2 separate regions of the Homo sapiens genome follow, and region 2 is linked to region 1. The links come from fine-mapping of genetic effects on gene expression. A gene starts in region 1. The other region holds a variant in brackets. All regions are shown on one strand. Distances are from middle to middle.

Region 1 (15,354 bases):
CACAACATTCTAGAAATATGCACCTCATCTAACCCATTTCTTAACTGCAAATGTGGTCACATTGATCCATTCTACAACTATAGCATATATACATAAAATCAATGTACCCTGGTATAAAAGACACATTGAAAAATCTATATCATTGAGACAAATTTCAAGCTCTAGTCATTAACTGCTAATATATGCAAATGAAAGTGAATAATAATACCGCAGCTAGTTAAATTTCATTTGAATTTCTGTGGTTGACCTCCTTACTTTTTATCTTACAGGGTTTAAATAAGGTTAATCTGACATATATTAGTAACAGTACTATGTAGGTGTCTAGATGCACTTGATTTTCAACCATAGTTTTATAAAATTACCTCTTTAAAAAAAACAGTAGGTTTGTAACCAAATTGTTGTATGACAATATAAAAAATTCTTTTTCTTTTCTAATGTAACATTAATGAAGCATACATAATATTGTCATCTAGCTAGAATAAGTTATTTTTTAAATTGCCAATACGTATTTCTGTTGTGTCTATGTGTTTGTGTGGGTGTAACAATATATGTATTCAGTTCCATCAGTTCTTCTAATAATATCAAATGTAGGAATTTATTTTCCATTGGTAACTGGACAACTTAATATGTTTTTGAGATAATGCAGAAAGTAATAGGGACAATCTTCTGTTTAAAGTATGTTGCCCTTTAGATCATACTGTGCACATTCTAACTTTAGAAGCTACAGCATGTGAATGTTTCCACTAGACAAATTGTCAAGATGAACTGGATAGCAACAGCAAAAGTAGGTCTGCACTTTCTCGGCAACAAAACTGGAAGAATAAAAATCTTGATACAAGAGACCTCTTTAGATATAAATCAAAGTTTTTTTTTTGGCAAAAGATAACTCTTCTTTTTTTTCTAAATTTTGTAGTCGGCTAATTTATAAATGTTGTGTTCTTTTTTCCCAAAACAGCAAACTATTGGGTCTTCTATATTCTTCACTCTTACTCTATGTCGATTCATTAAAAATTCAACTTTGTTTAGTGCACAGAGGATGAATGAAAAGCTAAAACTTTATTTAAAATTTAATATAGAAAATCTGCCTCCATTCTGATAGTTTATATAAGTATTCAGAGAGATAGCACTAGTGATTATATAGCCTAGAGTGAACAGAATTTTTAAAAACAATAGTGGAGTCAAGTAAACCTTCCAAATTCCTATTTATAGCTTCACTAATCCATTGGAAATAAACTCACTGATAAAAGTAACTTAACCATTTTTGGCAACAAAAAGTAATATTATCTTAACCAGTTAATAAAATGTCAAAAGGACAGAGATGGCAGATGGCAGGGACATAAAATTTCATTAACATAACCCAATTTTACTAGCATATAGGTGCTCACTTTATCACCCCCGAATACAACAATACAGTTAAAACATACAAAGAGTTCTCACCAGGTTTTCACAACAAAGAGAAAAAAAGGTATTTCTCTTTTTCTTTCATATAAAAGATAATGACAGGAACAAGGTAGCCATATTACACCAAGAAATATTAAAAGTATTGTATAATTTATTCCAAACTCTACATATAAAATATTAATTACAAATTTAAAATATAATCATAGTTCCTCATCAGAAATGTTCCTCAACAGAGATTTATCATCCTTTTTTGAAATGTTATAATAATTAATCCTTTAATAATCAAGCAAGTGACATCATAGTTCATGGGAAACACAGGTTATTAAAACAGAGGTATTCATTAACACATTTGAAAACTTCAGGCATTTTATTCTTTCATCACAATATCTAACGAATTATATAGAATCATAATAGAGTTTTACTTCTTTTTGGAGGCAGCGTCTTGCTCTGTTGCCTAGGCTAGAGAGCAGTGGCCTACACACAGCTCACCACAGCCTTGACCTCCTGGGTTTAACATCGAGTGATCCACCCACCTCAGCCTCCTGAGTAGCTGGGACCATAGGTATGTGCCACCATGCCCAGCTAATTTTTTTGTTTTGTTTTTTGGTAGAGATGAAGTCTCACAATGTTGCCCAGTCAGGTCTCGAACTCCTAAGCTCACGTGATGCTCCTGCCTCAGCCACCAAAAGTGCTGGGATTATAGGCATGAGCCACCTCTCCCAGTGACTTTTACATTTTTTGTAAGAAAGTAAAAATGATAATGCCTTTACTGCTACTAAGAATGTATATTCTAATAAGCACCACACCAAGGTAAAGTGGTAAATTTGAAAACTTAAAATATCCCAATCTTTCTTGCATGGATCATATACATGTTTTATCATTGTCTTACCTCCATGATTTTGTCATGAATCTCCAGGCCATCTGCTCTGTCAGCAGGTCCATTTTCTAAAATTTTTGAAACGTAAATTCCTTCAGTCGATGTTCCTTCCTGATTATTCTATTTTTAAAAAATCATTAGCAGAAGAAAGATGTAAGCAAAATTTAAATATTATTAGGGACAATTTACCAAATGTAACATTACCAATCCTCTGTAAACCTGCAACTCTCTTAGCTGGGGATTTGGAACAGAATTTTAACTTACTTAACACCAACTAGTCATTAATCAAGGTGGCAGTTTTAATGAATGAGTCCAGGGTCTCTGACAAGATTATCTATTTACTTCACATTTTTGAGTTCACATAAAAAAGCTATGGGAAAGGGCATGTACAAGGTGAAATAAACTGGCTTTTAAGTATTATTTATAAAACATCTCACTTCTAAAGAGAGACAGCAAGTAAAAGGGTGATAAGGTTAAAGAAGGAAAAAAACATATATCTGGTTCCCACTGTATAACTGGTTTGAGATGTGGTAGAGTTTAGAAATGTAATTTAGCTTTTTGATGTGCCAGATTTAGAAACATAGCTCTAGTTGTGTCTATTCACAAGAGACACTGGTAGCTTACTCAAGTGTAAAATCCCAAAAGATCACATCTAAACTGCAAGGGAACCTATGCAAAAGGGAACCCATGCAAACTCATCGTTACATATTTCCAGGTGCAGTCTGACTCATGATTAGTTAAACCTCAAACATAGCCAATATGGTAAAAATAGGACATTTTAGCCAGTCACAAGAAGTCAAAGCTTATTTAGGGGAAAATATCCAACATCCTATAATAATACATTATATAATTTTAAATGTCATTTGACTTCATGACAGGTTAAATAAAATTATTTCTCTTTAGCTGTCCTTATCATGAATTTTAAGAGACTTTTTAAAAAGGCCCGATGTCATCTAAATGTCAAATACCAAAATAGAATCTATAAAAATATTCCTTAGGGAAAATGATAACGAAAATGCTATGATGAAAAGGCTTTCATCTTAATAAATGAGGACTGTTTTAAAAAGAGAAGCACAGCAGTCATTAGTTGCTAAGTTTTCAAAATACTAAAAACAAGGAAGAAATATGTCACTGCCATCCTTACCTAAACAGAGCATATGGCCAACAACACTAAGACAGTTTCCTTGTACAACATCTGCAATGCAGGATGCAAAAATTTCATGGCAGTTTATTGAGAAAAATTAAAGAACATCATTTTTTAAAACTTAACCACCTTTTTCCAGTTACGGTGAAAATTAAGTTGACACAGGAATTCAAAGATATAAAAGAACTTTGCAACTACAGTATATTCTATAAGTTTAAAATATGCATTTTGAAAACAATTGACATCAACATGAAGAATATTATTCATGCAATCAAACAAAGAACTCGGTTTGGGGAGCCAAAAATATTTCTAATCAACTGTTTTTCTTTAACATGGTACTTCCTATTGAAATCAATCATCCCTTGTTTCAACTGTTCATTCATTCATTCAATATAATTTTCTTCCTAGTCTGTATTAGCATCTTCAAACTGAGTAATTGCACTTAATAAATAGGTTTAAGCAGGCAATACAATTGCCTAATATTATCAAATAGAAATTGCCTACACATGGTATTGTGAAATAGGTTTATTCAAGAAATTTGCCAAAAGGACAATAAAATTTAGATAAAATGTGAAATGTACTTTCCTTTTCTTCTTTTAAAGTAGCAAAGAGAACCAAGTTTGCTAGCTGTTGTTTTTTGTTTTTCTCAAAAATAAAGGCCAGGTGCAGTGGCTCAAGCCTGTAATCCCAGCACTTTGGGAGGTGAGGGAGGTGGATCACTTGAGATTAGGAGTTCGAGACCAGCTTTGCCAACATTTTGTATTTTCTCTGCTACAAATACAAAAATTAGCTGGGCGTGGTGGCACACGCCTATAATCCCAGCTACTTGGGTGGTTGAGGCAGGAGAATCAATTGAACCAGAGGCAGTGGTTGCATTGAGCTGAGATCACGCTACTGCACTCCAGCCTGGGCTGCAGAGTGATACTCCAACTCAAAAAGAAAATAATTTTTAAAAATTAAAAAATAATAAAATCAGAGCCAGGCATGGTGGCTCACACCTGTAATCCTAGCACTTTGGGAGACCGTGAGGTGGATCACTTGGGGTGAGGAGTTCAAAACGAGCCTGGCCAACATGTGAAACCCTGTCTCTACTAAAAATACAAAAAATTAGCCGGGTGTGGTGGCAGGAGCCTGTAATCCCAGCTATTTGGGAGGCTGAGGCAGGAGAATTGCTTGAACCCAGGAGGAAGAGGTTGCAGTGAGCTGAGATCGTGCCACTGCACTCTAGCCTGGGCAACAGAGCAAGACTCTGTCTCAAACAAACAAACAAAATAAATAAATAAATAAATAAATAAATAAATAAATAAATAAAATCTGGGTATGTACTGGAATATTTGCATTAAGAAATCTGATATTTGATCACAAGTATAATTTTAAAGATTAAACCACTTGTTTTTCTTACTCAAAATCCACAAACAAAAGCTAAGTCCTCTATTATTTTATAAGCAATGAGTAATGCTTATTAATGCTTATTTTATAAGTAACGAGTAATGCATTAACAAGGTGTTTTACCTGATTTGGTCGACCTCCTATAATATTGAATCCCAAAGTGTCATTTTCTCTTTCTAACACAATAGTGAATGGCTTATGCTCTCCATCCTAGAAAAAAATGTATAAAATGACTTAACCAGGTAAAAATATAAAAGAAAAATAAATCCTACAATAAGTTTTTATGTACTGTAAGTTAACTGACATGTGAAAAGAGGAAAACTTTAAAATTAAGGATGGTTGAATGTGGCAGAAGGTTGACATTTTCCTATACTTACTTTGCAAGTATGTATTTGAAAAAGAACAACTGTGCATGTGAGGGGAAAAAGCCCTATTTTCAAAAATTACTAAATGGCTTTGCATTTTGAGACAGGAAGCTCTTTTATCCTAATGCAGTATCTAAATCTGATTTCACTGCAATTGAAAACAGATTTCTGGTTAAACCTTGGAGGTATCTTTATTTTTCCCTCCATTACAGAAAAGTAAAATATAAATTATCAATAGTGTAAAATTTTTATTTTGTAAAGTCTTAAGGAATTTAAGAAACACTGGAACTATTTATAAATTATAGTCATAACATTCATGTTGCTGTTGTAATGCAGGATCTGTTAGGCTACTGTAGTCCTAATTTTAAATAATATTCCTATTTGGTTTTGCATAATTCCTGCAGAATAAAAAAATAAGGGTTTGTGCTAGGTAAAGTAGTATGTATTTTTTCCTGCTGGCCAAATAATAGTAAAACAAATATGAATTATAGCTACAATGTTTATTAGTAAAGACTAACTTACACATAGGATGAATTAGTGCTGGACTAGGTGGGTTTATTCATGGTTGTAGATGTTATTAACCTTTACTTGGAAACTATTTCTGAATGATAACATTCAGAACATATGCATCATCATCACTGCTATCAGCATCAAGATATTTTCCCAGGAGCTTTTCCCAGGCAATGCGCAGAGCAGCCCCTACTGGTAGTAGAAAAACACTTCTGAGGAACACATAGAAGGTTTTGGCTAGTCTGCAAATCATGGGCAGTTTTTCTCACTTCTCAGAATCATAGCTTGACTTGTTGCATGGACTTTTCTGTAATATTATTCTAGCTGTTCCTCCTTTCCTTCAACCATTGGTTTCCTACGACCTTGAAACCTGGACTGGTAATACAAAGCTTCTATCTGTGCTTTTCCCCGGGTCCTCCCGTTTTGTAAATTTACCTGTATATATGCGTATATGTATATGCATATATGAACTAGAGAAATACTCCTTGAAACCGGTCGTTTAATACACAACGTGCTTCCATTCATCAAGGTAGAAACATTTTAGTCCCTCTCACTTCAATTTTCTCTTTTACGTTCAAGACGGGCGCTTCTAAACTCAGTGCCTGAGTTAGAGGCAGTGTGGAGCAGCCAGTCCCAAATGGGAATCTTTCTGGGTTGCTCCTCCCCGGGAGTGCTGAAGAATGAAAACAGCTCCTTGAATGGTGCGCAAATTCTGCTAAATCCCTGCTCACCATGGCAGCGACCAACAATGTCAGACACTGTGCAGAAGTCCTCCAGGAGAGAAGTAACAGCTTTATAAACAAGCCTCTTCACACGGGATGCTGCAAAGAGGCTTGTTTATTCGGTATGAAAGCCGGCGGGAGGACCAGGAGCGCAGTTCGGGGCCAGCAGCTTAGACAAAGAAGGGAAACAACCGCTGCCTGGGGGCTCGCAGGGCCGGTCTGACCACAGATGGAGGTTCTCGGACTGGACTTCCCAGGTCGCACACACACAATCTCAATCTCTCTCTCTCTCTCCACCAATAATGAGATCCCGAGGCAAGGAAGGCTTATTTAGGGAAAGTCAGAGTGATGAAATGAACTCTGCAAGTCTAAGAAACCCCATCTCTCAACTCCTGAGGCTGTCCTGGCCCCAACGTGCCTCACAGTCCCCAACTTAATAGAAGGCAGTTGATTCAGGCAGTGGCAGCGCAAGTGTCATCAACGCTGACACCAGTCCCAGGTGTGCGTGCGCGGCTGCCAGGGCCGCGGGGATGCTGGTGGCCGCGGGAGAGGAAAGGCTGGGCCGGGAAAGTCTTCGCTTTCTGTCTTTCCTTCTCGGATTTGCTTCAGGCACGGGACAAGTGCTCAAAAAATAGGCAGAGACGGTGGGCAGGAGGGTGAAAGATGGAAAACGAGAGTCTGGATGGAAAATGAGTTTTCACAATTCCTACTTTCCCGGGGGAAAGTTAGAATCGAATCTGTTTAACTCTTTCCAATCGTAATATAATCAGAAAAGGGACAATCCTTAACTTCGACGCCAATCCATTCGTAAGATAATGACAGGAAAGTATGATCAGGGTGTGGATGTTTCCTGCTGCATAGTGAGGAAGGATGCCCAATTCCAAAGGAATCCTGAAGCGTCAGAAAGAACCGCTCCTTTTCCCACCCCAATCGACCATGCCCGCGGTGCCCACCCCCCTTTGCTTACCCTGCGGTGGCCGCCACCGAGGTCGCCGACGAAGTTGCGGACGTGAGCCATGTATTGGGTGAACTTCTCCTGGTACCTGCGCGCCGTGAGCTGCACCTCGCCCTGCAGCGCCCAGAGCTGCGCCAGCAGCGCCTTCTCGCGCCGCCTCCAGGCGAGGACCCGAGGCCCGGGTCCCCGCCCGCGGCCCCAGCGGCCGCCCGGCGGCCCCCCGCGCGCGCCCCCGCCCCGGCCAGCCCTGGGTGTCGGACCGCAGCCCCCCCGCGCGGGCACCTCACCACCGCCCAGCCCCGAAGCGCAGCCCCCGCGGCTGCGGAGCCGGCGGGCAGGGCCGAAGTCGCAGTGCTCGACGTGCGCCTCCAGCTCGTGCAGCCTGACCGAGTGGCCGCAGCCGCGGGCGCGGTAGTCGCACTGGACTCGCAGCTTCTGGATGAGGCTGCGCAGCGGCAGCACCCGGTACAGCTCGCCGGGCGCCAAGGGCTGGCACTGCAGCGGGCACCGGCGCCTCCGCACCGCCCAGGGCAACAGGCAGCTGGCGCAGAAGACGTGCCCGCACGGCGTGCACAGGGGCTCTTCAAGCACCTGGCCGCACAGTTTGCACTCCAGAGCCGGGTCCACGGCTTCTGCGAAGCGCTCCAGGGCAAAGCCCATGTTAGGGATGGGGAAGAAAGGGGGAGCGAAAGCAGAGTCCGTCTTCTCCGAGCCCCCCTGCCTTCCCCGGGCCACCCCCGGGGCAGCCGTCTCGCGGCGGCGGCAGTGGAGGGAGGTGGCGGGTGGGAGGTGTGATCTCACTGTTTGTTTGGCTTGAAGTTTTCAGGCTCCTGCTAGGTCCCCTGATTTCGCCCGTATTGACGCTAATAGAAGTAACCTCCAGAGACCCCCGCCTCCTTCGTTGCCCTGCGATTTATGTTCTTTCAAATTTTGGCCGCCCAGCTTACAATGGTCCTTGGGAACACTGTGTTCTCCTTCGCCTGAACAGTGAACTTCAAGCATCGAGGCGCCTCGCCCTGGGCAGGGCTGCTGATGGGTAAAGCGCTAATGTTGAGAAACAACTTTTAAATTCACCACAATGTAAGCTTCGGGAGAGCAGAATCTTTTTGTCTGTCTGGTTTTCCGCTGAATGCCCATGGCCCGCCCGGCGTCGAGTCTATCTCCAATATGTTTGAAATCGAAGCACTTTTGTTCTTTCACATCAAAACTACAAAATCAGAAGTTAGGAAACTGTGACCTTAGGAAATCACTATAAGGAAAATAACACTAGGAAATCCACAGGGCCAGGCTTCTCAAACCGTGATCCAGAAATCAGGTGAGTTAGAATGGCGCGATCCTTGACCTAGCAGCAAAGATGGGGAAAAAGTCAAGGGCCCGCCTCAGGACACTGCCTTCTTAGGGAGCCCATGAACAGCCATGCAAGGCCTCCTCCCGAGTGAGGAAGCTGGGATTCTGAGTCTGACTCCAGGTTCAGTTGCCACAGCATCCATCTTCTACTTCCACGGGCGTTTTACTACTGGGGACGGGAATGTGATCATTTGGGAACCTGGAAGGGAAAATTAAAGGGAAGGATGATGAAAGAAAGCAGTGAAATAACATATAAATAAAATCTTAGTGGCTGCTTCCTTCTACTTACCCTGAATGAACCCTTTGGATCCAAATTGCCTCCCCTCCTAGTTTGACTCCTCAAATTGTGTAGCATGACAAGCCGTCCTGAAAACACGCAGTAGGGCGTCATTCCAAACCCTTCTTACTCCACTTCCTTTACCATCTTCTGAACCTTAGGAATGCAGAGATCCTGTCACCTGGCTGCATATCACTTACTGCCATTATCCTGAAGCTGCCACCAGATGCTTGGGTGGGTTTTATAAATTAATCATTGATGATTCCTTGCTGCCAGTTGAGCCTTGTTCCTGGAAAGCTTGTAATTCTCTATGACACCAAATGGCATCAGTTGGAATTGATGAGAACAGCTCCAGACTTTGTCTTTTAAATCCTTGGAGCTAACTGAAGAATTAGCAAAGACTAATAATAGAGGCTAATAACCTTCTGAGCCTTCTTGCTGTTTGAAAGATGAGATTTTGTTAGTTGTTCAATAACCAGTGATGATTGGTGTGCTAGATGTTTGATATGCTTTTAAACTCTTTTTCAAAATAAGATGCTATATTTCTCATTTAATATATATAGATTCATATGTGATAAAGTAACATTTGCCCCTATGTTCCAAATTTCCCCCCTCTTTCGACCTGTCTTTCTACAAATAAATAAGCAAACAATGAATTACTGATTAAATAAGAAATCATTTAATATTAACAGCATGAAAATATTTTTGTGAATTGCATAAACTGGAAATACATGTTCTAGAATTTATTAAAATACTTCTGGGCAGGAGAAATCTATTCCTTTTTTTAGCTATAGAAAAAGTTGTGACTTACAGCTATAAACATTTATAATTATAACCATGCATATACAGTTATAGCTATAGCTTGACATTTATTGGTTTTACAGTAAACACAATGACACTGACAGCATTTTTAAAAAGAGAGAGAAGAGATGGAATCCAAAAATATTATTTTGAGACATGAGACTGTTAGGACCATGAGACTTCAGTTACTTGGAAAAAAAAAAAGTTCATATGATATCCTTGGTATACCCATGCAATTCCTATAGCAAAAGTAAGGAGCATGAGCAAATTATGTTATGACTAATTCCAGGATGCATAACATTTTTATTATTAAAGTAAAGCAGATGTCAAAAACGTTGTCCACAGAGAATAGGAAGTTCCAAAATGAGGGCATGTAAAGTGAAACTGAGTAATGAAATAGGCCAAACAGAACAGGAAAATCTTTTACGTAATAAAATAAAAGCCTAAGCATTTCCAAAAGAGCTAAGTATAAAGAAAAAACATGACAAGAATTGAACTCTAAGAGAATGGACACACCCAAGTGAACCTCATAAACTTTTGCCATCTGGAAACATTGTGGCATAAGTCTGTGACATCAGTTGAGTCAGATAGTCTCGTTTCACTTCCCAGACTGTAAAATATTTTTCTACATATTAGCAAAATTGTAATATCAGTGAAAAGCTTGAGTGAGCTAGGAATATGGAGCCTAATTAAATGGAAGTAATTAGCTTGGGTAAACAAAGAAAGCACTTTAAATGAGTTTAATATATGCACAAATATTTCAGCAAAACAGACCCAGTAATATTTAGATGCTTTTTGGCAAATTAGACAAATTAACACCTTGCATCTTTAGCTTGGGCATACTCTTATGTTTTCACTGATCATAATTGTCTATCATCTAAACATCCCTGGATAGTGAAAATTGCAGGCTGAATACTAACACTTGGGGAAGAGCTGAAAGGAAACCCACTGTCTTCTTGTTGGGCAAGGCCAACTTCTAGCTGTGTTGTGCGTTGTAGCCAAAACCAAGCCTTTTACATTTCTCATAACCTTTTGTTCAGCCTGGAGCTGAGATTGTGCTTTGCCAGCCAAGAAACAAAGGAAAGACTATGAATTCACTTAGCTTATTTCCAAGCCAAGAATCATGGCTTGATTCAAGTTATCTTTAAGCAGCAGTTTGGGAGGCCGAGGCAGGTGGATCACTTGAGGCTGAGACTTCGAAACCAGCCTGGCCAACTTGGTGAAACCCCATCTCTACTAAAAATTTATTAAAAATAATTAGCCAGGCATGGTGGCAGGTGCCTGTAATCCCAGCTACTCAGGAGGCTGAGGCAGGAGAATCGCTTGAACCTGGGAGGCGGAGGTTGCAGTGAGCCGAGATCACATCATTGCACTCCAGCCTGGGCAACAAGAGTGAAACTCCACCTCAAGGAAAAAATAAATAAATAAAATAAAATCTTTAAGCAATCAGTAGTTGGTTGAGTATTTTCAGCTTAGTAACTAGTTTTTGCTTTCATCTGCTATCAGCAGTCATATATTCATGAAAAGAGATTAAAACATTAAGTTGCTAAATTATTTGGGCCAATTCCTAGTGCAGTAATGAAACTGGGATGTGCCTTGGGTGTTTCCAGTGAGAAGAGGCAGGGTTCCATCCCAGCTCTGAGTCATGCCTACTTCCAAGAATGAATCTAGGAGTATTGGTTGTTGAGTCAAATGCTAAAAGTCCCAAAATAAAATACTGTATTCTAAGACTCAAAAATGATGAATGGAGAGGTAAAATGTGAAAGAGAAAGATTTTTTTCACCTCATGCACAGATAATGCTTTGTCAAAACCAACTCATTTGTGACTCTTTTTCATGTTTTATTTATTTAATTAAGGGCCATGAAGTTGGAAAGGTTGGGGGAATTTTTCAAAGAATAGGACCTTAAACATTTATTTTATATGTGTTCATATAGCATAAGTTAGTACTTTATATATAACAATAGTTTTTCAATTCTCTATTATATAAACTTTCTCATAAAGAAAATTTCATCATCTATGTTTTTCTTTTCTCAATTCCCTGGTCATTTATCATAAATTAGTACTATTTCTATAATTATCCCAAGTGCTCTAAATGTAATCTGTAACTATACTAAATTACTCTGGTAGCTGAGGCAAAAGTACTTAGCCACTTTAGGTCAAAATATTTCCTGTGGAATACATTCATTTGTGTTGAAGTTAATGGACTTTGTTCTTATCTTGATAATTTTTCCATCATAATGTGGGATCAGATTTGCACCTAGTAGCATAAATGACTATGTTTGTAATGCATGAGATAATAACGAGGTCACTTTGACAGTACAGAAAAATTCCAAACTTGATAAGAACAATAAAAGATACTTTGAAGTTGAGTTAGTTGAAAGTTTATTAAAAATGAGGCAGATTTTTTTTATTTTACAAAAGTAGGCTGATAATATATTATGTTAGAGAAGTGATACATTTTGGATATGTTTCACTCCAAATTATACATAATCAGTTAAATCCTGAGAACACAGAGCAGTATCAATTCTTATAATTCCTGTCTGTTGACACATAATCCATTAGGAGTTATTTGCTATTATCTTGCTTTCCTGCTGTCTTTGGCAAAATGTAGTTGGAAGGGGTATTATGACAGTACAGAATGCCATTTTTAAGGGGAATAAAGTAATATGAATAAAACAATTATGTACACCAAAATTGAGTAAATAATTTACAATAATTGTGCAGTCTCTGCAGGAATGAATTATCAGACACAGCAGAATGAGGAATTTGAAGAAAATCAAATTAAAGTGAGGTATTAAATTAAAAATTGTGGCAACTTAAAATTAGATTACAGACTGATTCTTCCAAAGTCACCCAGACATTAGGAAGGGTACTATTATTCTTTTTAAGAAGGGACTATTGTGAGAGATGGTTTATAGAGAAAAATAGATTAAATTCTGCATTTAGTTAACTTTAATTTTGTGTTATATCTTGTGGGTCATAGTCACTGACAAAGAGAGATGGTATAAAAAACAACCACAAGCTAATAGATAATAACTCTTACTATGTGACAGCCACAGCACTACATTCCCTACATACACAATCTCATTCAAATCTTCCAATGACGATTTTGAGTGGGTACTTTTATTGTTCCCATAACTTGACCAAGTTCACACAAATCAAAAGTGGCAGATCCTAGGCTTAAACTAAGATCAGCCTCACTAAAGAACTCAGACTCTTAAACGCTATATTGTATTGGCTTGTTTTTCTTACACTTGCCATGGGGTTATTTTAGAATAAAATATGCTATCGAATGAAATATGTGAATGGACTCTGTAATTGCATTCATTTGATTCCATCGTTTAAAAGCTCTCTTTTTGTTTTGCTTCCTCTGATGAGGGAAGTTCCAAGGTCATGTTTATTAGAGGCCTTTGAATAGTTTATGTAAATGAGAATATCGTTTAACTGTTCTATGCAATACCAATAACCAATATGGCTATTTTAGACCATTTTGTTCCACATAACTGGTCTTAAATAGCTGAAAGTTTTCTATGTAATAAACCAATTGCGTATGTTCTTTAAGTTTTGTCTTAATAAATCAATCACTATATATTTCGGTCAAACTCTTACTTTGTGCTTCGTTCAATAAAAATTTTCTATAGTAATATTTTTCTGGATGTTTCTGCAAAATTACAGCAATTTTCACAGAATTTTGAGATGTGAGCTCATTAAGTCAGCTTCTTGCTTAGTGGAAGAAAAGAAATTATTTTGTCAATTGTCATTTTTTACTTTTTATTACAGTGATGTGGAAACCACAATCTAAAACCAATGTAACTAAGGTTTGAAGACAAAACCAGGAAAAATATCACTGATCTCATTTACCATCAGTATTTCTTTGGGCTTCTGAAGCCACTTGTTTGCTCGTTTATCCCAAACTCAAAGGAAATCTAGACATAATTAATATTATATATTAATAATTTATTACATGAAAATATAATTTTTTAAAATAATGGATACTGGAAATTCCACATGGAAACTCTGTTGACTAGAACGATGTCTAAGAAACAAAGAGATGCTTTTGCCATGACTTGTTCTGCCATGCCATAGATTTGACATAAATTATTTAATTTCAGTATAATCTCATCTATAAAATGAAATCATTGACACCTGTATCATCCTACCTCCCGGAAATCTTGAAAGAATAAATAAACTGTGGTCTGAGGGACAGCTTGTTATAATTTCTGTTCTTTTACATTTGCTGAGGAAAGCTTTACTTCCAACTATGAGGTCAACTTTGGAATAGGTGTGGTGTGGTGCTGAAAAGAATGTATATTCTGTTGATTTGGGGTGGAGAGTTCTGTAGATGTCTATTAGGTCCGCTTGGTGCAGAGCTGAGTTCAGTTCCTGGATATCCTTGCTAACCTTCTGTCTCATTGATCAGGATCAAGAAACTCACTCAAAACTGCTCAACTACATGGAAACTGAACAACCTGCTCCTGAATGACTATGGGGTACATAACGAAATGAAGGTAGAAATAAAGATGTTCTTTGAAACCAACGAGAACAAAGACACAACATACCAGAATCTCTGGGACACATTCAAAGCATGTGTAGAGGGAAATTTATAGCACTAAATGCCCACAAGAGAAAGCAGGAAAGATCTAAAATTGACACCCTAACATCACAATTAAAAGAACTAGAGAAGCAAGAGCAAACACATTCAAAAGCTACCAGAAGGCAAGAAATAACTAAAATCAGAGCAGAACTGAAGGAAATAGAGATACAAAAACCCTTCAAAAAATCAATGAATCCAGGAGCTGGTTTTTTGAAAAGATCAACAAAATTCATAGACCACTAGCAAGACTAATAAAGAAGAAAACAATGAAGAATCAAATAGACTCAAAAAAAAAAAATGAAAAAAGGGATATCACCACCAATCCCACAGAAATACAAGCTACCATCAGAGAATACCATAAACACCTCTATGCAAATAAACTAGAAAATCTAGAAGAAATGGATAAATTCCTCGACACATACACCCTCCAAAGACTAACCAGGAAGAAGTTGAATCTCTGAATAGACCAGTAACAGGCTCTGAAATTAAGGCAATAATTAATAGCTTACCAACCAAAAAAAGTCCAGGACCAGATGGATTCACAGCCGAATTCTACCAGAGGTACAAGGAGGAGCTGGTACCATTCCTTCTGAAACTATTCCAATCAATAGAAAAAGAGGGAATCCTCCCTAATTCATTTTATGAGGCCAGCATCATCCTGATACCAAAGCCGGGCAGAGACACAAACAAAAAAGAGAATTTTAGACCAATATCCCTGATGAACATTGATGCAAAAATCCTCAATGAAATACTGGCAAACCGAATCCAGCAGCACATCAAAAAGCTTATCCACCATGATCAAGTGGGCTTCATCCCTGGGATGCAAGGCTGGTTCAATATATGCAAATCAATAAATGTAATCCAGCATATAAACAGAACCAAAGACAAAAACCACATGATTATCTCAATAGATGCAGAAAAGGCCTTTGACAAAATTCAACAACCCTTCATGCTAAAAACTCTCAATAAAT
Region 2 (15,354 bases), 140 kb after region 1:
GGATTCTGTCTGTTTAGATAATGGCAGAAGCTATGTCAGGTCCTCTCCCAAATAGTTAACAAAATTTGGTTTGGAGTTGGAGTGCTAGAAATTTTAGCTGTGCCTATCTGGCATTCACTATTTATTCTGCAATATAGTAGTTACTTATAGAATGACCTGTGTATTTCTGGGTATCTCTGTTTCTCTTCTCTTGTTGCTATGTCATGTCCCAATATCAGGTTCTTGCTAAAAATTGCCATATGGAACTAATCCCATCCTAACATAGTATACAGATTAAGAGCACATGCTTTAGTGTTAGAACTAAATCATTTGAATTCTGGCTCCTAGCTTAACCAGCTGTAGGACTTTGGACAAGTTACATAAACTCTCTGAATTTCAGTGACTTCATCAGTAAAATGGTGATAGTAACAATTAGCTAATTGTGTTATTTTAACAAAGATACAGAGTGCATTGCTATTATAAATAAATATTTCATGATTGGTGGCTCTTTGTATTATTATAGCTGGAAAATTATTTTCTAACCTACTTTGTTTGTTGAAAAATGAGTGCCAATTGTCTGTGGTCTCTGCAGGCCACATTCCAAAGATTTCTGGTAATGGACTCAGGAAAGAAGTATCTGGCCAGGCCCAGACTAAAGGGCATTAGAAGGTATTTAGGATTTAGGGTACCACTTAATCCAAGCCGGGAGGAATCAGGGCTCTTCTGACTACAACTTAACTACTCTGCATCTCCAAGGTTGTGCAAACTCAAAAGAAGATCTAGGTACTGAGGTACCCGTGCTTCTTCAAAGTAAGAGCAAATCCGTGGCTGTAATGTCCCTGTGTGGGAAGCTGAGAGGGAAGAGAGAGGAAGTCACTGCTGAGAAAGGTACATTGACATGATCCAACTTATAGATAAAGATGCTAGTTGTTTTAACTAAGTGGGCAGGAACCATCTAAATGTGATTAAAATGTGAGTTTCTATCCAAGTCATTTTTCTTTCTTTAGGATTGCTTCTCAGTTTTAATATAACAGGAAAAAACTTAACTGCCAAACCTCCATTCATGAATTTCAATTTAATAAGAACCCACTACTTCTGTGGTCAGTACTGGGTGCAGAAATGGCCTTTCTTCTTCTCAAGAGATCTTGGTTGAATGATAGTAAACCACAACTGTAGTACGGTGTGGTAAACACAATTGCACTTAGAATGCCAAAGATATGAGGGGAGCAAAAAGGAGGGTACTTCCAGGTGGCAGCAGAAAAGGGGTTTCCTGGAGGAGGAGGAAAACACACTAAGGAAGAAGAGATGGGGCAAAATATATGAATGGGTTTTAGAAACACCCACTGTCGTGATGATAACAAAATATTTACCAAGAAATGCATTGTGAAAAAGGGAGAAGCTAGTGAAAGTTATCCTGGATATTCACAAAAAGTAAACTCTTATTCTAAGCCACTGCTTATAATACTCTAAATTAATGTAAAGTTATAGTTGATCCTCTCATGTATATTAATTTCCATTTCATTAATTCATAGACCAATCCAAGATAATAAAAAAAATAATTCCCTTAAAACTTCAACATATTTTATCATCGTCTAGGACATTAATTTTATAGAAGGCAAATACATATTCTATTAGACTATATTTCAAACACAGTTGTGCAAATGTCAGAGAAGTTATTAACCTAGAAGAAAACCAAAACAAAAATATTTGCTACTTGGAATGATGCCTAATCTTCAGTTTTAAAACTTGCAATGTTGGATTTCGTCTAATTAAAAATGGCTGACGATAAACCACAAATGACATACTGTTCATTGACCATGCAGCAGAGCTGTGTAGAAAATATATTAAATGATTGAAACAATATTTTAAAATTAACACATATAAATGAAAATTCATCAAATTTGCAAAAATATATTGCATGACTTGACATTCTCTAAATCACATAAGTACATTCAAGTACATCTAATAACTAGAGAATGAGTTCTTTAAATGTGACATGGCAACTGATAGTGTAATTTAAAGACATTATTCTATGTGAAGTACCTTATTTGTGTGCTAGCTTACAGAATGTATTAGTAACTGCTGAAGATCAATAAAATAATTGAGCAACTGCTATGTTCTGTGATAAGTGCTTTGGTTTATATTATCAATAGGTTAATTATAAAGATAGGAAACTTGTTTATGTTTAAAATGAGGAGAGAATTACCATTTCTCTCTTTGCTAAAGCAGATACTCTAATCATATTTTCACCATGATTTTTCATCTTGTGTATAACTAACCTTGCCTCATACATGTTATGTTCCATGAAAAATAGGTAAGATATTAGGCATTGACAACAATATCTACTTAATTTGTAGAAAAATGTTTATAGTCAAATATGTTCTAGGAAATATGTATAATACTATGTTTACTAGTGCCTGTAATATAGTTGCCTTATTTTTTCCCAATATCGATGCTATAACTCCTAGCAAAATTTATTACTAATTTTATCATTCTCAAATTTTAGAAAAATAAATCTTATACCAGAAAGGATAGTATAGAGACTTTAAGGCACTATATAGTCCTAAATAATCAAGTAGCAATAAGAAAGCATACTCATTTTCACTTTAATTTGAGAATAATATAACTTCTCTTTCTTTGAGGAAAGGGAATTAGCCTCTAAAATTCAGATATAAAATGTTTCCTTTTATATTTATTTTATCTGGCTTATAGAATATTGATTAGTGTTTTACAAGTTTCCATGAACACAATTAAGAGCTGGCATACAATATATATTTTTAAAGAATGAAAGAACAAGAAGACAATAGAGTTTTGGGGACTTTTGCCTTAGTGGTACACTGTATTTATTTTAAAAATGGGTAAAAAAGGATTAAAAAGTCAGAGTAAGAAAATGCTAAGTTAAATAATTCTTTATTCCTTTAACTGAATCCAAAGTTCAACAAGTATAATAATAAATATGAGCTAGCATTATATTATTTGTAATGACATTTAAATATATGTTAGTTATTTTAAAATCTGTTAAAGATTAGTTAAAAGTTCTTGATGACGACAGTTTTCAGTCCCAGGAGCAAAAGCAAAAAGAATAACATGTGGCTGCAGAGAGCTACAAAAGATATGTTCAAACATCTAAATCATCAATATAAAGGGCAACATAATTAACAAAATTACAAAATAACAAGAGTTTCCAGGAATAAGCCACCTTATAAAGAACTGACACTGCATTATTGGCAAATATATATATATATATATATATATATATATATATATATATTTAGTGAAAACATGAAAGAGACAAAATCTAAATAAATTTTGTCTGTGAACTACTTTTTCCTCTACATCAAATTCATTTTGGGTATCATATATCCATGGCAGTGTATTTATATGTTTAGAAGTTTAGTCAGCCATTCATAGTGACTCTATAAAAAGAAAGAATGTCTTTTTATTTATAAAAACCAAGGCTTTCTAAAAATAAACTCAGACTATATAATGTCACGAAAGCACTTGGGATACTTGAAAGAATGTAAGAATTATGAAGACTATATTTTTCAAATGTGATGGCATCATTATTTTTTCTACTTCAAATATTTCTCTATCAAATTGGTTTGCTTTATATTTTAGACTTCTGCTTGGATTATAATATCTATGTAGTCTTAGGATCACACATGCCAGTTCTCTATTTTCTAAGCACATTTATTTTACTAAATATGTAAGTGCTTTTTAATTCATTTTTCTTCTTGTGTCCATTTTATTTTAAGAATTTTCTCTTTAGATTTTATTGGCTCTCACATTTTAGATGCATTCTTTATAACTTTAAATAATATTTCAAGAATTCTTTTTGGCTTAAATTTAATTATAAAGCATATACTGGAAATCCGATTCATGTTTTGTAGTTCTTGAGGATAAATAAATGTTCTTAAGACATTTACTATTGAAGTCTTCCAGATATTGTAATCCAACAGTATTTATCTAGAGAACTTTTTTTGCTAGTTAAATTGAAAAAACAAACACTGAGTCAAAATGGTTTGCCAGGTTCTTTGGGGGATAAAATATAAATATTTACTTATAAGTTATAGGCTACTTCATTCTAAAAAGACTTTCTGATAGTTTACAAAGATAGATAAAGTATGATAAAGAAAACAAATAAGAAAATTGAGAGGAAAAAAGATAAAGTTAGGAAACATGATACAAAATAAGAGGTAATACCAAAATAGCAGCAACATCAACTAAAGCTAGTACAAATATTGCTAATATTTATTGTGTCTGTGTTGTTCCAGGCACTTTTTAAAGCCACTGCATATATATTCAGACATTTTAAAGTAAAATATACAATACTTTATATATTTTGCTATAGGCATGTAGCAGATTTGGCTCTGAGCTTTGGCCATGCAGTGCAAACACGGAAATACATCAGCCATTGAGTTTCCAATGTCTTTATCCAAAAGATAAAAACAAGTAATGTCTCAGGAAGAGCTTATCTACTTCTGGTCTTAAGACCAGAGACAAAGTTTATGGAACAGTCTAGTTGGGCAGATATCCGGGATATAAACTGTACTGGATGCCAACACAGTACTAGAAATACAAGAAATTGGGAAAGCATATTTATCACAGTATTCTACCCCCACAGTTCTCTACTGAAGGAAGATGCTGATAAGCTATTTAGAGTGTGTGTGTGTGGAGAGTGAGTCTGCTATTTAATACATTCCAATAAGTAATATCTACACTGCTCACAGAGAATGGATTATTTAACTGTAGGTTTCTTTGTGTGTGTGTGTGTGTGTGTGTGTGTGTGTGTGTGTGTGTGTGTGTTTGTGTGGGGTGGATGTTAGGAGATGAACTGTTCCAGAGTTTAGACAGAAGTGATCCTCCTTGCATTCTTCCTCTTACAAGATCTCATCTTCTCCATTAAATACATAGTATGCAGGAATTTCAAGACTAATTTAATGTTAATATTAAATTATTTTATTTAGACATTAAATATTTATTTATTGGCCTAGACCAGGGTGCTCACTTCTATAGGTTCACCCCTACCTGAGAGAACTTTCATTCACAGTTCCTTAAAAAGAGGACATTTTTGTATGTGTTTTATAGAAATATATCCTCAACAATTGTAGAATAATATAATAGTAGATTTTGTGTATTTTTTTTGGTTTTGTTTCTCTACTTTATTTTTAATTGCCCTCAGTCTAAGCCAATAGCATAAGACTAAAGTACAATTCAATACAAAATTAATTATATAAGATCACAAAACAGGCTGGGTGCGGTGGCTCACACCTGTAATCCCAGCACTTTGGGAGGCCGAGGTGGGTGGATCACGAGGTCAGGAGATCGAAACCATCCTGGCTAACACGGTGAAATGCTGTCTCTACTAAAAAATAAAAAAAAAAATTATCTGGGCATGGTGGCGGGCACCTGTAGTCCCAGCTACTTGGGAGGCTGAGGCAGGAGAATGGCGTGAACCTGGGAGGCAGAGCTTGCAGTGAGCCGAGATCTCACCACTGCACTCCAGCCTGGGTGACAGAGCAAGACTCCGTCTCAAAAAAAAAAAAAAAAAAAAGATCACAAAGCAATATGTTCTAAAAACACAGCTCACTGAAGGTTTGGACTGATTGATTCATAGAATTTACTGTGTCTCCAGGGAGTGGAATGAGTGAGAATCTCCACCGAGCATGCATTCTCAATAGGGCCAACATGGCCTCCAACTAAGTGAAAGTTGGTTCTTGTGGGGTGGGAAAATCTGAAATCTCATAATAGTTTTGGATCTCTAAAGGGCCACATAACATAAACAGCTATACAGTAGATTTTTGGTATTAAAATTTCATAAGTGGTAACACTTGGAAAAATAATATGTAACGAGGCTTCCTAGGGAGGCAATAATGAAGAAAGTTTGAGAAATGCTGATATAGAGTGTTGTCTTTCCCACTCATACTTCCGGTTATAATTGGGTGGCAAAGGTTTAAGATATATAAAAACAGGTTTAATTTATTCATTTATGGCTCATATCAAAGGTAGACACCATTATTCTCATTTATGCAAAAAGAGAACATACCTATGTTAAATAATCAAGGCATATGATAATGGTTTGGCTGTGTCCCCACCCAAGTCTCAGATTGAACTGTAATCCCCAGTGTTGGGGGAGGGACCTGGTGGAAGGTGATTGGATCATGGGGATGAATGTCTCCCTTGCTGTTCTTGTGATAGTGAGTGAGTTCTCATGAGACCTGGTTGTTTAAAAGTGTGTAGCACTTCCCCCTTCTCTCTTTCTTGCCACTGTGTGCAAATGTGCTTGCTTCCCCTTTACCCTTCTGCCATGATTATAAGTTTCCTGAGGCCTTCCCAGCCATGCTTCCTGCACAGCCTGTGAAACTGTGAGTCAATTAAACCTCTTTTCTTTATAAATTACCCAGTTTCAGGTAGTTCTTTATAGCAGTATGAGAATGGACTAATGCAACATATAAATAATAAAAACATACATAAATTTATAATAATATTATAGACATCTTGACTGGGTGCAGTGGCTCTCACCTGTAATCCCAGCACTTTGGGAGGCCGAGGCAGGCGGATCACCTGAGGTCAGGAGTTCAAGACCAGCCTGGCCAACATGGCAAAACCCTGTCTCTACTAAAAGTACAAAAATTAGCTGGGCCTAGTGGCATGCACCTGTAATCCCAGCTACTTGGGAGGCTGAGACAGGATAACTGCCTGAACCTGGGAGGTGGAGGTTGCAGTAAGCCGAGATTGTGCTACTCTGCACTCCAGACTGGGTGATAGAGCAAGACTCCATCTCAAAACAAAAAAATTACAGACATCTTAATTAGTTAAATCAAATTTTGCAGGACATTGGGAAATAAAATAAACAGGCTTATGTTT[T/G]CCAGAAACTGGTTTATATGTCATGAGCTGGGGAGTTAATGGTAGTGACCCAGATTGGCAGAGATCAGGCAAAATACAAATATGAATATGATCTAGTCCCCTTCTCAGATAGGAAGCCATTAAAGGTTTTTGTGCAGAGACATGAGAAGAGCTGACATATTTTAAAATAATCACTGTGGTCATTATATTAAGAATGAATTGTAGGTGTTAAGCACCAAGCGAAGAGCACAATTAGATGGTTAGTGCAACAATCCTGGAGACAAGGCACAGTGACTGGACCCTATGATGGTAGCAGCAGAGGTGGATGTTTCTCAATACATTTATTTTAGTGGTAAAACCAACAGGATTTCTTGATGAAATGAATGTGGTGTGTTAAAGAAAATGATGCCAAAAATTACTTCAAAGAAGATTGGAGATACTTTATTGAGATGGGTAAAACTGCAGAAAAAGCAAACAAAGGGAGATGGGGAAGAGTTTAAATTAGATGTCTGAATGGAGATAGCAATCAGGCAGCTGAATAAATCAGAGAAGACTGACATTTGATTGTTTTCTACAAATACATGTCATGCACTTAAAGCCTCGAGACTGCATGAGATTACCTAAGGGCTAAGAGGAAAAGAATTACTGACGTACTGAGTCCTGGGAGACTTTAAAGTTCAAAGGTTGGAATGATTACCAGAAACCAGAAAAGGAGACTGAGAATGGCAGCTCTTAAGGGGAAAAGAAAAATCAAAACAGACTGGTGCCCAGAAAGCCAAGAAAGAGAAAGTGGCCATATGCATCAGTGCTGCTGAGAGCTTGAGTAAGGAGAGGACTACTCCTAAATTAGAAACATGGAGGTCATTAGCAACCTCGACAAGAGCTGTTTTGACAGGGTGTTGTGGTGAAAATCTGATTGGAACAAATTTAAGATAGAATTTTGGAAGAGGAATTAGGTGGTGAAGATGATAAATTATTTGTTGAATTTTACTCCAAAGAAGATAATAGAACATGCGTTAGTTACTGGAAGAGATTTTCTTTTTTTGTTTTTCTTCGTTCCTTCCTTCCTTCCTTCTCTTTCTCTCCTTCTTCTCTTTCTCTCCTTCCTTCCCTCTTTCCTTCCTTCATTTTTTTCCTTCTTCTTTCTTTCAATTGTTGCTCTGTTTTGTTTTGTCTTATTTGTATTTTCCCCCCTTAAAAGTGGGCAATATTGCAGAATACTTGTATGGTGATGAGAAAAATCAAATAGAAAAAAAGAAATATAATGATGTAGAAGAGGAAGGAAAGGGTAGTTGAAGCAATATTCTTGAATTAACGAGAGGTGTTAGAATCTGGCTTCCATGTGGAGGGGTGTCCTTAGGAACATAGAACATTCAGCCAGGATCTTAGAAAGAAAGGCAGGTCACATGGGCGTATGTGTAGGTGTCGACTGCTTCAGATTGCTTTTATTTCTCAGAGAAATAGGAAGCAAGGTCATTGACTAAAGAGAGAAGATGGTAAAGATGTGTTAGAAATTAAAGGAAAGAAAAAAAGAAGGTGTGAAATAGGTTTCTAGGTGAAAGAAAGAGTGGATGTGCTAGGAAAATCTAGTGGAATGGCCCAGCAGCACTATGGGCCCACTTGAAGTTTTGTGGTCATGAATTCAAGGTGAAACCAGTGTTCGTGTTGGCATTCTTCTCTGGCCACCTTTAGCCATGAAAGTGTAGGCTTGGAGCAAGTAGTGAGTTAAATTTAATCCACTCCTTTAGCCAAGTGAGTATGGTGAAGTTAGAGTAGCAAAAGGGAACTTCTGGGTGGAATGGGTGGTCTATGCAAGGGAATAATTATATTATATGGCTGTGGGATTTAAGCTGGATATGGAAAGAGTGAGGATACAAGGAAGGTAAGGGACACAGACAGTGGTCAGATCAATGGCTTGTCCTTCCTGATAGGTCAAAAACTTTTGGGAGTCTGAGTACCAGAGGTAAGAGTAAAGATAGGAAGTGGGCAGAGGATAGGATGTTTGAGATTATGTAGATAGTAATGAAAAGGGCTAGGGTAGAACCGTGGGAAGAACATCAATAAGAGAAAGAAATGGAGAGGACAGAGTAATGCAAAAATCATTTATGCCTACATTGTATCACTAGAACTTATGAAAGAAGTATAAAAGAGAATGGCATTCTCTCCAATGTCATTTGGAAAGAATGAAAATTATCTGAAAAGTAAAGTCTCCATGGAATGAGTAAGAGTGGCCCTAGAGGCTAGTAGAAAACTTGGACAAGAAGGGGAAATGGGTGGGAGAGGGTGATGGTATGATTCCAAGCAGAGCTTTTTAGGCAAGAGAGAAAGAGAATACTGTAGAAGTGACAAAAAGGAAGGTCAACTACCCTCCACCAGGTGCAGCCTTCAAGGGGTATGAGAGAGAACCACCACTTTTGAATAGACTGCAGAAGGAGCAATGTCATCAGGGAGAGCAAGACTTCAGATAAAGTTAAAAGGTGAAGGAAGCACTCAGTGAGTAGATGGAAGTTACAGAAGACTCTACTGATAACTGATGGTGAGTTTTAGAGGGAACAGTGGGAAGGTTTTAAGAGTAAAGTATGAATAGAGATGTCAGAAAATGGGCACCTGGATCCGTGTTAATCAGAGACTCCTGGGTTTCTGTAGGTGACTGTCATAAACAAGGCTGAAGGGCATGAACAGATTATATCTCAGAGTCTCTAGGTATGTGGTGCTGGTGAGAGGGTGAATGTTGGGGATGGGAATGCAAGGGGGATGGGAATGCAAAGGGGAGATCTTGGTAGGGGCATATGGCTTCTGCCTTCTGCCTGGATGTGGACACATAAAATGTGAACAGTTATATTTAATATGAGTTTGGGTTTGGCCAAGTGAGAAGCATAAAGAGGGAAAGGGACAAGGTATATAGGGCAGTTGTTTTCAATATGAACCGTGGAATCTGAGCTGACATTCAAGGCAGGAGCTGAGGACATGAGGATGAATGAAGGACAAAAAAAAAAAAAAAAAAAAGAAATAAGCAATAAGATCACTGGTAGTCTGGGTAGGGGAAAGTAGAAGAACTGCTGGAGTTGGGAGGAGATTTAAGGAAATAAACTAGAAAAAGAAGAATCAGTGGTCAGAGAACACAGTATTTAAAATCAAAATTAAAGAAAAAAATTTGCAGTTATTAGTAATATTAAGATTTACAGGGGTTCTTAAACTTTTTGGTGTCATGGACCCGTTTAGTGGTCTGTGGATTTCTGAAAATACTGAGAATAATGCTCTTATTACATGCATAAAATATAATACATAGAGTTTTTTAAAAACCTATTGTATTGAAATTCATTTATAAAAGTATCAAGAAACCAAATGTAAGTTACTAACACATTCAAATAGTATGCTTATTAACACATTAAATAACAGGATCTAGGAGCAGATTTAAGAAATGTATTATTGAAGTAATACTTCAACAGCTGAAATATATGAGAATATGTTTGATTGTTATTGGTGACAGAGTAATATGTGACCTAAATTCATATATTTTAAAATGCCAAATTTCAGTTAGAAATTCATGAAAATTATAATGTAATTTTTTACCATCCAAGTTTCAGAAATCCCTCAAATTCAAATTCACACTGAAATCTGTGAATTCCTGTTTCGGTTGTGATCATGAGTGGGTGGCTGAGGCAGGACACAGGACAAGATCATCAGAAAAGAAAAGTTAGATAAATTAAGAAGCTATGGCATTGGATGAATCATCTACATGGATGTTGATATCCTAAAGATTCACAACTTTCAGGCACATCAGAATTCTAAGGCATCTCTATGGGCTAAGGGACTTGAGGAGTTAGTCTCTGTACTCTGCCACACCCTCGACTCTTCCTGCATTTTCTGTAACCTTCAATAACCTTCACTCTTCTTACTTCTCCTGGCCATGTGACCCAAGACTGATTATTTGCTTTTGAGCCCATTTTTAAGAAAAAGAAGTGAGAGTCAAGTATGCAGGCCCTAAAATGGAAGGTTATAGAAGAAGGACTACTGGCTGGATAATCTCATACTCTTGAAATTGTTCTAAATTATTTATTTTGTTTTGGTCTGGATGATTTTGCAGAATGTGTCTATAAAAACTGCCTCTGGAATGTCCTTTGCACTGCTCTCATACTGTGAAGAATCTACCAAGAGGCCTGGCTTCTAGCCTTACCCAACTATGGGAATTACTTTGAGACCTAAATGCTCCTTCATAAATCACTAAAGCTGGTCCCTAATGTAGTATCGAATGGACCATTTTAATATGTTGACATATCACTTTCCAGTTTAAGCATTTTATATTCCCTCTTACTATGGCATTAAAGGCTTCCAGTAATATTTATGAGAAATTTCAAGGGTTTTATTTTTAAAAATCACAAAGTCACTTTCCTTTCTAAATGGTTTTCAAATTTATGTTATAGTGAATAAGTGTCAAACCTCAGGAGAGAAAATTTAAAACCCAACTCCCTTTCTCAGAACAGACAATTGTTTTTATATTTTCCTAAGAGGGTTACAAATTTCAACACAGCCTATAATGTTTCAAAGGAAAGTGAATTTTGAAGTCTTGTTCTGATGGTTGATGCATATATCTATTAAAGATAATCTGATTGTTTTAATTAACTTTTGTGTTGCTCTTATTTCAGAAGAGAAGGTAAAGTAATATCCTATGATTTGGGGCGGGGGTAGGTGTATCTTAGTTCATCCTTAGGAACAGGATGTTTTCAATCCACTTGAGTGTAAAGAATAGATATCTTAATGTAACTTTTTATGTCATTAGTAAATCAACATTCATAGAAAAATACAAAATTAGGCTTACCAATAATTAAAATTCTTCATATAAATCATTGTAAAAGATTATCCATTTTCTCATGAATAATTTATTCATGCATATATCATAAATTGGTTGAAACTTTACAACGAAGTTTCTCAAACCTTGGTGTTATACTTACAGGTAAGAGAAACACATTACTTTTTAGTAAAATTAAAATTTTGCTAATACCCAATACTCAGAAAAATGAAATCATCTTTGAATAAAGGTATCTCCCTTAGGACTATTGGTTCATTCTCCGAAAATTCTTCACTATAATTACATTCTCCAAAAATGATTAATTTCTTTAATTTCTGACGTCCTTTTCCAAAGCACTCACTATATATGGGAGTTCCTCCTCATGCTAGATTCCAATTTTAGTTCCTTCAGCAATATTCTTTCCAGATTCTACCCTCCCAGTATAACATTCTAAATTTAGAACACATCACCAAATGCAGTTATTTGAGGTGAAGGATTTGCCTCATAGATTTCAAAATTGTGGAATAACTAATCTAAAATATAAAACAAAACAAAAACATTTACAATTTTTATGTCATTAATGATGTAAACCAATCCTTAAATATTCCTCTCTACTTGACTACTTAAATGTTATTTAACAGTGATAGAGCCAAATAATATATTTTTAAAGGATAAACCTGTGTTTACTGACTTTGTTTGCACCAGAATTCTTACAACTCAACTTATTGACATAATCCTTGGCAATTTACCCAGCATCATAAATTGTTTTAATCTCAGTATCCATCTTGTCAGCAATTTCTGTTTCTTGAATCCAAAACAATCCTGCATTTTGAAGCTAACATCCTAGCCTTTCTGTAAATTTCCATTACTCTTTCTCTGAATTTTTTATTTTATTTTTTTATTTATTTTATTATTATTATACTTTAAGTTTTAGGGTACATGTGCACAATGTGCAGGTTAGTTACATATATATACATGTGCCATGCTGTTGTGCTGCACCCATTAACTCGTCATTTAGCATTAGGTATATCTCCTAATGCTATCCCACCCCCCTCCCCCCACCCCACAACAGTCCCCAGAGTGTGATGTTCCCCTTCCTGTGTCCATGTGTTCTCATTGTTCAATTCCCACCTATGAGTGAGAACATGCGGTGTTTGGTTTTTTGTCCTTGCGATAGTTTACTGAGAATGATGATTTCCAATTTCATCCATGTCCCTACAAAGGACATGAACTCATCATTTTTTATGGCTGCATAGTATTCCATGGTGTATATGTGCCACATTTTCTTAATCCAGTCTATCATTGTTGGACATTTGGGTTGGTTCCAAGTCTTTGCTATTGGGAATAGTGCCTCTATAAACATACGTGTGCATGTGTCTTTATAGCAGCATGATTTAAAGTCCTTTGGGTATATACCCAGTAATGGGATGGCTGGGTCAAATGGTATTTCTAGTTCTAGACCCCTGAGGAATTGCCACACGGACTTCCACAATGGTTGAACTAGTTTACAGTCCCACCAACAGTGTAAAAGTGTTCCTATTTCTCCATATCCTCTCCAGCACCTGTTGTTTCCTGACTTTTTAATGATCACCATTCTAACTGGTGTAAGATGGTATCTCATTGTGGTTTTCATTTGCATTTCTCTGATGGCCAGTGATGATGAGCATTTTTTCATGTTTTTTGGCTGCATAAATGTCTTCTTTTGAGAAGTGTCTGTTCATGTCCTTTGCCCACTTTTTGATGGGGTTGTTTGTTTTTTTCTTGTAAATTTGTTTGAGTTCATTGTAGATTCTGGATATTAGCCCTTTGTCAGATGAGTAGGTGGCAAAAATTTTCTCCCATTTTGTAGGTTGCCTGTTCACTCTGATGGTAGTTTCTTTTGCTGTGCAGGAGCTCTTTAGTTTAATTAGATCCCATTTGTCAATTTTGGCTTTTGTTGCCATTGCTTTTGGTGTTTTAGACATGAAGTCCTTGCCCATGCCTATGTCTTGAATGGTAATGCCTAGGTTTTCTTCTAGGGTTTTTATGGTTTTAGGTCTAACATGTAAGTCTTTAATCCATCTTGAATTAATTTTTGTATAAGGTGTAAAGAAGGGATCCAGTTTCAGCTTTCTACATATGGCTAGCCAGTTTTCCCAGCACCATTTATTAAATAGGGAATCCTTTCCCCATTGCTTGTTTTTCCCAGGTTTGTCAAAGATCAGATAGTTGTAGATATGCGGCATTATTTCTGAGGGCTCTGTTCTGTTCCATTGATCTATATCTCTGTTTTGGTACCAGTACCATGCTGTTTTGGTTACTGTAGACTTGTAGTATAGTTTGAAGTCAGGTAGTGTGATGCCTCCAGCTTAGTTCTTTTGGCTTAGGATTGACTTGGCAATGCAGGCTCTTTTTTGGTTCCATATGAACTTTAAAGTAGTTTTTTCCAATTCTGTGAAGAAAGTCATTGGTAGCTTGAGGGGGATGGCACCCAGATTCATAAAGCAAGTCCTGAGTGACCTACAAAGAGACTTAGACTCCCACACAATAATAATGGGAGACTTTAACACCCCACTGTCAACATTAGACAGATCAACGAGACAGAAAGTCAACAAGGATACCCAGGAATTGACCTCAGCTCTGCACCAAGCGGACCTAATAGACATCTACAGAACTCTCCACCCCAAATCAACAGAATATACATTTTTTTTCAGCACCACACCACACCTATTCCAAAATTGACCACACAGTTGGAAGTAAAGCACTCCTCAGCAAATGTAAAAGAACAGAAATTATAACAAACTGTCTCTCAGACCACAGTGCAATCAAACTAGAACTCAGGATTAAGAAACCCACTCAAAACTGCTCAACTACATGGAAACTGAACAACCTGCTCCTGAATGACTACTGGGTACATAACGAAATGAAGGCAGAAATAAAGATGTTCTTTGAAACCAACGAGAACAAAGACACAACATACCAGAATCTCTGGGACACATTCAAAGCAGTGTGTAGGGGGAAATTTATAATACTAAATGCCCATAAGAGAAAGCAGGAAAGATCCAAAACTGACACCCTAACATCACAATTAAAAGAACTAGAAAAGCAAGAGCAAACATATTCAAAAGCTAGCAGAAGGCAAGAAATAACTAAAATCAGAGCAGAACTGAAGGAAATAGAGACAGAAAAAACCCTTCAAAAAATTAAAGCCCCCAGGAGCTAGTTTTTTGAAAGGATCAACAAAATTGATAGACCGCTAGCAAGACAAATAAAGAAGAAAAGAGAGAAGAATCAAACAGACGCAATAAAAAATGATAAAGAGGATATCACCACTGATCCCACAGAAATACAAACTACCATTGGAGAATACCACAAACACCTCTACGCAAATAAACTAGAAAATCTAGAAGAAATGGATAAATTCCTTGACACATACACCCTCCCAAGACTAAACCAGGACGAAGTTGACTCTCTGAATAGACCAATAACAGGCTCTGAAATTGTGGCAATAATCAATAGTTTACCAACCAAAAAGAGTCCAGGACCAGATGGATTCACAGCCAAATTCTACCAGAGGTACAAGGAGAAACTGATACCATTCCTTCTGAAACTATTCCAATCAATAGAAAAAGAGGGAATCCTCCCTAACTCATTTTATGAGGCCGGCATCATCCTGATACCAAAGCCGGGCAGAGACACAACCAAAAAAGAAAATTTTAGACCAATATCCTTGATGAACATTGATGCAAAAATCCTCAATA

Evidence for each region.
Region 2: its variant is fine-mapped to the expression of PDZRN4 in tibial artery (GTEx, PIP 0.96).

What each region holds. Positions count from the first base shown.
Region 1 is chr12:41,181,125-41,196,478 of GRCh38, reverse strand. It overlaps PDZRN4 (PDZ domain containing ring finger 4), which reads right to left and starts at 8,159. Exons shown (of 10, transcript NM_001164595.2): 1 at 7,376-8,159; 2 at 4,935-5,021; 3 at 2,291-2,398. The coding sequence starts at 8,023. It overlaps LOC124903069 (a long non-coding RNA gene), which reads left to right and starts at 8,247. Exons shown (of 2, transcript XR_007063563.1): 1 at 8,247-8,678; 2 at 9,149-13,449.
Region 2 is chr12:41,041,325-41,056,678 of GRCh38, reverse strand. The region is part of intron 23 of CNTN1 (contactin 1); the gene reads right to left. Among named protein-coding and RNA genes, the nearest start is that of PDZRN4, 140 kb to the left of the region's middle. The variant T/G (reference allele first, on the strand shown) is at 6,847.